Regions from separate parts of the Homo sapiens genome. Here region 1 is linked to region 2. A link means that fine-mapping ties the variant in region 2 to the expression of a gene that starts in the linked region. Tissue or cell type: whole blood. Region 2 holds a variant in brackets; the other region holds the start of a gene. All regions are shown on one strand. Distances are between the middles of the regions.

The links. PIP is the estimated chance that this variant, and not a neighbour inherited with it, causes the effect.
Region 1: DGUOK starts here. The variant in region 2 is fine-mapped to the expression of DGUOK in whole blood (TOPMed, PIP above 0.99).

Annotation. Positions count from the first base shown.
Region 1 is chr2:73,924,459-73,929,572 of GRCh38, reverse strand. DGUOK (deoxyguanosine kinase) reads right to left here and starts at 2,693. Exons shown (of 7, transcript NM_080916.3): 1 at 2,521-2,693. The coding sequence starts at 2,662. RefSeq lists an enhancer at 2,392-2,661.
Region 2 is chr2:73,961,117-73,966,323 of GRCh38, reverse strand. All of the region lies in intron 1 of DGUOK-AS1 (DGUOK antisense RNA 1), which reads left to right. Among named protein-coding and RNA genes, the nearest start is that of DGUOK-AS1, 18 kb to the left of the region's middle. The variant G/C (reference allele first, on the strand shown) is at 3,003.

The DNA.
Region 1 (5,114 bases), 37 kb after region 2:
CATGCTCAGGGCTCAGTCCTTTCCATCAACACATAGTCTCTGGCATTAAATACCACCTACATTTACAGCTCCAGTCCGGGGAGACCCTAATTCTGAACTTACATATCCAATTACCTATTCAACACCTCTACTTGGATATTAATAGGCATGTAAAAACCTAACATGCTTAAAACCAAGGCTCACTTCTGTAATCCCAGCACTTTGGGAAGCCAAGGCAGGAGGATCAATTGAGCCCAGGAGATCAAGACCAGCCTGGAAAATATAGTGAGACCCTGTCTCTACAAAAAATATACAAAATTAGCCACGCATAGTGGCAAACACCTGTGGATCCAGCTACTCAAGAGGCTAAGGTGGGAGGATGGCTTGAGCCTGGGAGGCAGGCTGCAGTGAGATGCAATTGCATCACTGTATTCTAGCCTGGCAACAGGGCAAGACCACACCAAAGGAGGGGAAGCGAGGGGAGGGGAGGAAGAAGGAGAGGAGGAAATAAAAGAAAATCAGGAGTCTATCTTTCAAGTACTCAAGTCAAAATAATTGGAGTCATCATTGGCCCCTCTCTTTACCTTACACTCTGCATTCAACCTGTCACCAAATCCAATTGGCCCTATCTTAAAATATAACTAGAACCCAATCATTTCTCACCACTTCCACTGTTAAATTTTACTTAAAATGTAACTCAATTTTTGTTAACGTATAACTAGAATCCAATCACGTCTCACCACTTTCACTTTTCACAATACTATAATTATTGCAATACCACTTAACACTCTTCACTTTCAATGTTATCAGCCACAGTGATCTTTTTATAATCTAAGTAAAACTGTCACTTGACTCCTCAAACCTTCCAATGGCTACCCATCTCGGTAAGATTAAAAACCCATGATAAGGCCTATAAAATCTGGCCACCCCTTGGGCTTTTGCCCTAATTTCCCTCCCATCCTTGCTCACTCGACTTCAGTCACAACGATTTCCCTCCTATTCCCCGAACACACTTTCCACCTCAGGGCCTTTCCAATTGCTCTTCACTCTGCCTAGAAGATTCTTCTCCCAGGTATCCACGTGATTTGCTCCCTCATCTTCAGTTTTTTGCTCAGATGTCACCTTCTCAGTGAGGCCTTGCTTATTTTATTTAAAATGACAACTTCGGCCAGGTGCAGTGGCTAACGCCTATAATCCCAGCACTTTGGGAGGCCGAGGCAGGCGGATCACCTGAGGTTAGGAGTTTGAGACCAGCCTGGCCAACATGGTGAAACCCTGTCTCTACTAACAAAACAAAAATTAACTGGGTGTGGTGGCGGGTGCCCCTAATCCCAGCTATTCGGGAGGCTGAGGCAGGAGAATCGCTTGAACCAGGGAGGCAGAGGTTGCAGTGAGTCGAGATCGTGTCATTGCACTCCAGCCTGGGTAACAAGAGCAAAACTCCATCTCAAATAAAATAAAATAAAAACTTCCCTCAATTCTTCATCCCTAATTTTTCTCCATCATACTTATTACTCTCTAACATATTGTTCACCTTGCTTAATTTATGTTGTTTATTGTCCATCTCTCCCTACTTGAGTTCCATGAGAGCAGAGATTTTTATTTGTTCTATTCACAGCTGTATTCTCCAGGCCAAGAACAGTGCTGGCATATGGAAGTGGCTCAAAAGGTGATTTGTTGAATGAATAAAAAAAGAAATTCTCAGTTTGCTGCTACGTCTTCAGTACTCAACACTTGCTAAGCCCCTTTTAGGGGCTCAGTGACTTGGTAGATAAAAGTATCAAGTCAGAATTTATTAATATTAAATCGAAATGCTTTGCCTTCATTTTGCTTTCTGACTACTTTTTATTCAAGATACTGGATCTCACTCTTTTAACAAAATAATTTTTAATTTAATACATGTTTTTAAGTTTAAAAAGTGAGGTTCTTCTAAGAAAAGCCTTAAGAAATTATTATGCAACTAGCACAGGCACAGGGCAAAAATTGTGAATGTGGTATTTGAACGACTGAAATTTAGGAACTCTCTTCGAATAGGGTTGCCAGATAAAATACAGGACACAGTTAAATTTGAACTTTCAATGAGTGATTTCGTTGTTGTTTTGCTGTAAGGATGTCCCAAATATTGCATTGGACACACACTAAAAATTATTCGTTATCTTAAATTCTATTTTAACTGGATATTATTTTTAATTTCTGCTAAATATGGCAACCCTATCTAGGAGAACAAATAAACTGCACCCGCTTGTCGCTTCAATTTCGATCTATTACAAACAGCTAATACAATTCTTGTCCTATCCACTAACTGCGTGGCTTTTATGCCCCAACAAATATGTTCCTGTGGGCGGGTACTGAGGCCCGATATCCTAAAAACAAGGAGGCAAAGATACACAGTGCACTTTGCGAGGGGAAAGGCTCTCCTCGCAGCCCAGAAAAAGAGGCCGGCCGCATCAGACGCAGGCCATTCCGGGCCCAGCTCCTTTCCCAGCCTCTGTCGCCTGCGTGGCGGAGGCCAAGGCTTGGCAGCCGCTTTCCGGCCCTTACCAATGTTGCCTTCGATGGAGAGCCTTCGGGGCCCGCGCCCCGCGTGCAGGCCTCTGGAGGAGGAAACGCCCTCGAGTGGGCTCTTGGCCATGGAACTGAAGGGTGCTCGAAGCCGACTTAGAAAGAGGCGGCCCGCGGCCATCCCACCCACGATTCACACAGCGATCACTTCCGCCGAGAGCACTTCCGCCCTAGGTATCGCTGCTCACTCGCTCCAGCGCACCGTTGACGTAAGGAGATCGTCAGACAGGAAGTGGGTGGGGTTGAACATGCGGCGGGGTGCGCCCAAGAGACCGCTCCGCTATCGCGATGTTTGTAAAGAAGCGTTGAGTGAAGGAAGTTTTGCAACGGTGCAGAATTTGATAGTAAAAGGAGTTGCGGTGCGAGTGGTTTTTGTTCATTGGACAAATAACATTTTAAAAGACGTAATTCCACAATCCAACCACTTCATTTTTGTATAACTTTAAAATAAATTTTATAACTGAAGACAAAATTAAAAATAGAAATTGTAATTTTAAGAGGGGATTTCCCCCCCCCCAGGTGCTTGTTGTCTGGTTTTTATTTTAATATCGGAAGAAAATGGAAGTTTTAAAGTAGGAAAATGACTCAATCTGATGATTTACACAAATTTAACTTTTTCCTATTCCCTGTAATTCCCCTGCACAATGCTGGCATATTATTGACTAAATTAACAAATTAGATAATCAGTTACACCCCATCTCTTAGTTTGTGTCTTGAATAAGTAAATAAATGTTCGGTCAATCGATTTGCATTATACCCAAAAATCCCTTCAGGATAAGGTGGTGGTGGCTCAGGTATGTGACTGGAAATTGTTTAAACCTGGTAGGCTGGGTTCTTGGACGTAAGCAATGGCGAGTAGAGACTTGTATAAAACCTGAGTCCTGCTGTCGGTGAAGTGTGCTCTGCAGGAGGGCAGGGACCTAAGCTGCTGCCACAGGTGAAGCCGGACTGCCACACCCCGTCGTCATAACAACCTCAGAAGTAATGATTTACAAAATGTTGTCAAATGGTGCTTCCAGTTCCAATCGCTTAAATCACCAACAGTCAAAACCAGGAGTCAACAGGCCAAACCGGCCTTCAGGCAGCGCTCTTAGGTGTGGCAGGTTTTAGAAGACAAGGATCTGATTGCAAGGGGGCTGGGGAGGGGCCGGGGGCTGGGATACCTGTCTTGAAGCTGTTCCCATAAAAAGCACGGGACCTTTTTCTTATGTTGATGTATATATAGGATGGCTGAGGTCATGTTTATATATTAAGAACTTTTTTTTTAATCGAATTTTTTAAGGATAACCAGGGTGGGGCGTTAATGGCTACTGGAGCGGCTAAAGTCCTACCCATTCCCATCTCCACTCCAGCAGCCACTTCTGTTAAAACAAAACAAAACAAAACAAAACAAAACAAAAAACAAAAAAAAAACTGCTTACATTTCTTTACCTATGTAAACTCAGACTTGGAAAATATTCATCCAAAAAAGCTTGAGAGGCTCTCTGCCTCGCCAGGATCTTGCTGCCTCAGGGGTGTTGTGAAAGTTAAATGAGGAAGTTGTCTGCAGGCAGGCATTAATCTCCTAAAAGCTACGAGGCAGGAAAATAGGGTCTGGAGACAGGGAACCTAAGGCCGATTTAGGCTGACTTCCTAGAACTAAATCAAAAGGAAAACCCCAACTTTCTAGCCCAAGTAACAAAAGGACCAGAAGCTAATCCCTCTTCTGGGTGGCAGATAAAAAATTGAAAGTACCTCTGACTGGTCCCCGCGGGCAATCAGTCAGGCTGGTGGCAGGCCAAGTCTTTAGTTGCATGGGGTATAACTTCATAACTTTACTTCAGCCTCTGATTGGTCCCCTCCTGCAACCAATCAGACTGATCGCTGGCCACTACTTCATTTACATAGGGTGTACACCAGGTAACCAATGGGAAACCTCTAGAAGGTATTTAAACCCCAGAAAATTCTGTAATTGCTGCTTGCTTGGGCCCTTCCTACCGCAAGGAGTGTTCTTTGATGTACAATAAATCTGTGCTTTTGTTGCTTCATTGTTTCCTTGCTTTGTACGTTTTGTCCAATTCTTTGTTCAAAATGTCAAGAACCTGGGCACCCTCCACCAGTAACAGAGCTCCTAAAAATTATTTTTAAAAATTTTATGGTGAAGTGGCCTGGCGCGGTGGCTCACGCCTGTAATCCCAGCACTTTGGGAGGCTGACGAGGGCGGATCACGAGGTCAGGAGATCAAGACCATCCTGGCTAACATGGTGAAACCCTGTCTCTACTAAAGAGAGAGAAAAAAAAAAAAGCGGAGTGTGGTGGTGGGCTCCTGTAGTCCCAGCTACTCAGGAGGCTGAGGCAGGAGAATGGCCTGAACCGGGGAGGCGGAGCTTGCAGTGAGCCGAGATCGCGCCACTGTGCTCCAGCCTGGGCGACAGAGCGAGACTCCGTCTCAAAAAAAAAAAAAAAAAAAAATTATGGTAAAGCATAGTATGTAGTGAGGAAAAGAGGATGTGTTGTGCAGTGAGGAAAAGAGGATGTGTTGTAAGTGTACAGTTCAATGAAGTTTTCACAAATGGAATGACTGTTACCTGGAT
Region 2 (5,207 bases):
ATTTTTAAAGAAGAATATTAACATGATTAAAGGTTTTTAGGCTGGGTGTGGTGGCTCACACCTGCAGTCCCAGCACTTTGGGAGGCTGAAGTGCGTGGATCACTTGAGGTCAGGAATTTGAGACCAGCCTAGCCAACATGGTGGTGTTTACTAAAAATACCAAAAAAAAAAAAAAAAAAAAAATTAGCCAGGCATGGTAGTGTGCACCTGCAGTCCCAGCTACGTGGGAGGCTGAGGCAGGAGAATCACTTGAACCCAGGGGGCGGAGGTTGCAGCGAGCTGAGATCATGCCACTGCACTCTGGCCTGGGCGACAGAGCAACGCTGTCTCAAAAAATAAAAATAAAAATAAATTTAAAAAAAATAAAGGTGTTTTAAGAAAATCATCTGATAGCAACATAAAGGGTGAGCTGGGAAGTGGAGTAGAAGGCATCTGTAAAGACACTCCAGAACCTTCACCAAGCTTCCACATACATTCTAATGGCTAGTGCCTGAAGGGCACTTTATGAAGGTGCAGTTGCTGAGAAGAGAAAATCTAGCCCCCCAGAAACATCTCTCCACCTGTTCAGGGACCCAGGGGCCAAAGGCACAGCTAAGATGCACCTGGTGGCCTCCACCTAGCAGTGCTGGCAAACTAGGTTTTCCTGCCCAGGCTACAAAATTTGGCTGGTAAATCCAGACAGGCAGCCAAGGAAATGCTTGCTTGCCTTCTTTTCTGAAAATCTAGTCTTATCTCCCTTATGTAATGGTTTGGTGTTATGCAGAGAACAGGCTCTGGAGTCAGGATGGACCTAGGTGTGAGTCCCAGCGCTGTCAGTTACTGTGGGACTCTCGTTGAGTTACTGAACTCTGAGCTTCAGTTTCCTCACTGGTAAAAACTGGCACCTTAAACCTCCTTCACAGGATTATTGAGAGGGTTGAATAACATTTAGAAAGTGTTCAGTAGGGTAGCTGGCACACAGTAGGCATCTGATAATCATCAACTCCTTTGACAATTTAAGAGTAGAGTCCAGGCCCCAAATTTCTTGCATATTCTCAGTGCTTAGTACACAGAAGGGACTTCCTCAATTGATGATCGTAATATAGAGCTCACAAATAACCCAGGAACCTGAGAAAGGGCGGAGCGTGTCTCCAGTCAATAATTTCTTTATTTAAAAGTCTATGTTAGGCACTCATGAAACAGCAATAAATAAATAAATGCCAGGCATTGTACTAAATGACCAAGACATGGTCTATGTCAAGAAGGTCAAGGCCAAGGACATCAAAGAGATGTCTCCAGACAACTTTCATTCAGGTATGACACGTTTGACAGAAGTTTAATAAACAGGGTGCTCAAGGGCACAAAGACTGGACATGGTGTGGGGTGAGGGAAGGGCTCCACAGAGAGAGGAATGGTGGGCTTGGGCCTGGCAGGGTGAGTAGTTCTTCCAGTGTAAAAGCTTGGGGTGGTGGGTGGGGGGTGGGAGAGAAAGAGAGAGAGAGAAACATTTTGTCATGTGGGAAAACACATCTGAAGCTATGGGTGGTCTCGTGGGGTTTATGGTAGGAGTGATGGGAGATAGGGTTATAAAAACATGGTAGCTCTCATACCTCCACATAGGAGAGGCTGAGGGGCAGCTCTCTGGTGGCAGGGGTGGGGCAGGTGACCTGACCTAGCAACCACTGTTCTTTTTTATACATCATTTAGTTGATGTGGCTTGGGGAAGAAATGATTACTGGTAGTAGTAATTGGGGGGCAGGGGAGGGGCCATTCCTGCCATTCCTAGGCATGGCCACTGCTACAATGGGGACCATATGACTGCTATGGAAGAGGAGGAGAGGTGGGATGAATGCTGGGGAGTCAACCACAATTTCCACTACACCTTCAACTAGAGAGACAGAAACAGGTGCAGAGAAGATTTGAAAGATTTCAGAGATGAATAGGCAGAATTTGTTGAGAATGAGTGTAAGTGGGGGGTCAAAGATAACACCAAGGTTTTTAATGTGGCCAACGGGGTGAATGGAGAAGCAGGGGAAATGGCTTTGCTGGCTGGGTTGGGGTAGGGTTGGTGGTGGGTATGCGGGTGGGGAGAACTGTTTTGTACCCATTGAGCATAAGGGATCCGGGTTGTGAAATCCATAGTTTGATATAGCTCTAGCTTTAAAAGACATCCTCCTGTTTGGGATTTGCTTCAGAATAATGAGAGTGGGGGTAGGCTGTAGGTGAAACCAGATTGGTTCTGAGTAGATAACCGAAGTGGGTGAGAAAGTCGAAGTTGGCGAGAAAGTCGAAGTTGGCGAGAAAGTCGAAGTTGGCTCATGCTAAGAAGGTAAAAAGCTGCCCTGCGACTCAACAGGCTGGGAGGACATTACACAGCTAAAGCCAGTCACAAAAGTTACCATGAAACAGTATTTCTCCCACGAGCACGTTGTAGCCGTAAAGTGTCATAATGACCCCTTTCCTTGTGTGACTACTGCTTTCTGACTCATAGAGAAACCTTGTTCTTTAAAATCATGAACTATCAGAAACTTTGCTGTGTGAAATGTTAAATGTTATCAGTAAAAACTTTGCTGTGTGAAATGTTAAATGTTATCAGTAAAAATTCCTTTTTTTTTTTTTTTTGGCCAGAAGATTCTAAGTCACTTTGACACAGAGAAGTTGTCTTGGTTTCCAAGCCAGGTTCAGAGTTTCACGTAAGGAGCTTCTGAACACAAATTCCATGTTTGTCTTAACTTTGTACTTTCTAGGGAAACAAACCTGAGTTCACCGAACAGTTCAGAACAGACTCCTTTATACACAGTCCTGCTTTGCTTTGCACCTATCCAAACAATGCTTCATTCAATTTTACCAAAACTCTAGTTTTCCTTAAAATCCTGTAACGGTATATTTTCCTGTTTGGTGAGATGCCCCACAGTTCCTCTGGTATGTGGTCTTCCTCATTGCAATCTGACCTTCTCAAACTCAAGGTTCGTTTCTGGTGATCTTAGGCTGATTGGGCTAGAATGTGGGTATGGGGGTACAGG[G/C]GTGCTTGATACCATTCCCTCTTGCATATGATTCACATTTTCCATAAAATTTCCAAGTTCATAAGAAGTCTTCACCCCATGAGAATAGTAGGAGCCATGATAGTGTTTGAGATCTGCGGAAAGCAGAATAGCAGCCTCCCTCCCACCCCGCAGCTTAGATTTCCCAGAGGGGGCCAGTGTAATCACGTGGGTCCTTGAAAGCAGAGAAGGATTCCTGGCTGTGGTTAGAGATGCAACACTACTGGCTTTGAAGATGAAGGGGCCACAAGCCAAGGAATGTGGGCAGCTTCTAGAAGACAGAAAAGGTAAAGAAACGGAGTCTCCTCTAGAAACTCCAGAAAGAAAAGCAGCCCTGTTGATAACTTGATTTTGTCCCAGTGAGACCCATGTCAGAGTTCTGACCTCCAGAGCTGTAAGATAATAAATGTATGCTGCTTTAAGCTGTTACATTTGTGGTAATTTGATAATGGCAGTGATAGAAAACAAATCCAAGATCACGCAGAGGGAGTGGACGAAGACAGAAATGAGCCAAGGGTACCTTGGGGACACCAACACTTTCGAGGAAAAGAGAAAAAGATGGCAGCCCAGGAAGCAGAAGGGGAGGCATCAAATGTAGGGGAGCCAGGAGAGACCCATGAAGGAGAAAGTGGTTCAGAAAATGTAAACTGCTATTTAAGTGAGGGCTGAAGAAGGTTAAATAGTATTAAAATTTTAAAGTGCATGTTATTTCGTTGCATCACTTCCTCTGTGATTCTGGTATTTGCATATAACAAACAATCTCTTTTACTTGAAATTATCACCTTCTGAGAGTTTGAGAACTTTCACAACCTTGATCCTTGTTATAAACCCATCAAGGTAATATTCAGGTTCCAGAACAGCAGGTTTTACCACATCGTAAGCCAGAAAGAAATGCAGCTATTTCTTATGTGTTAATCCAAATTTTTTGACGCTGGGAGTTGGCCTAAACCAAGAATAACAGCCATCCAGACTGGCCTGAGTGTAGAGTAGGGACCGTTTTAGTGTGACCTCCACTCTCTAGCGTCCACTTTAAAAACCCACGGTGCCCAAGGTTTCAGCCTGCCTTCCTGTGGTCCTAATCTGCACACTTACAGGCTCCACCCAGACCTACTTGTCCCTCCCCCACAATTTAAGATTCAAAATTACTGCTGCTCATTAATATGTTTACTCTCTACAGATGATCTCGGCTACAAATTTGGAAAATGACAAATATCACCTAGGTTACACTGTTGATGGCCCGCACTATCCTAGAGGATATTTACTTTTTTTTTTTTTGAGACAGAATCTCGCTCTGTCACCCAGGCTAGGGGGCAGTGGTGCAATCTCGGCTCACTGCAGCCTCTGCCTCCCAGTTCAAGCAATTCTTCTGCCTCAGCCTCCCGAGTAGCTGGGACTATAGGCCTGCACTACCATGCTCAGCTAATTTCTGATTTTTAGTAGAGATGGGGTTTCACCTTGTTGGCCAGGCTGGTCTCGAACTCCTGACTTCAAGTTATCCGCCCGCCTCGGCCTCCCTAGGTGCTGGGATTACAGGCTTGAGCCACAGTGCCCAGCCAACGTTTACTTTCTAAAAGGCAATATTTACCAATAGAGATGCTGAATTTGTAGACTTTCAGGCTTTAAAACTAGGTGAAGAGTGTAGTGGCTTACATCTGTAATCCTAGCACTTTGGAAGGCTGAGGCAGGAGAATCACTTGACACCAGAAGTTGGAGACCAGCCTGGGCAACATAGTGAGACAGTCTCTACTAAAAATAAAATAATTAGTGGGCGCGGTGGTGTGCACCTATAGTCTCAACTACTCAGGAGGCTGAAGTAGGAGGATGGCTTGAGCCCAGGAGTTCAAGGCCGCAGTGAGCTGTGACTGCACCACTGCACTCCAGCCTGGGCAACACAGTGAGACTGTTGTGGGGGAAGAAAGGAACGAAGTACTGATACATGTTACCACTTGGATGAACTTTGAAAACATTATGCTCAGTTAAAAAAAAAAGTTACAGGAGACAACATAGTATGATTCTATTCATATGAAATTGCAGGAATAGGCAAATCTACAGAGACAAAAGTAGACTGGTTGTTGCCTAGGGCTGGGAGTTGGCAGCAGGGAAACTTGGGGGAGATGGGGTATGGGCTTTCTTTTTGGGGTGATGAAAATGTTCTGGAATTGTGGTATTGGTTATACAGCCCCATGA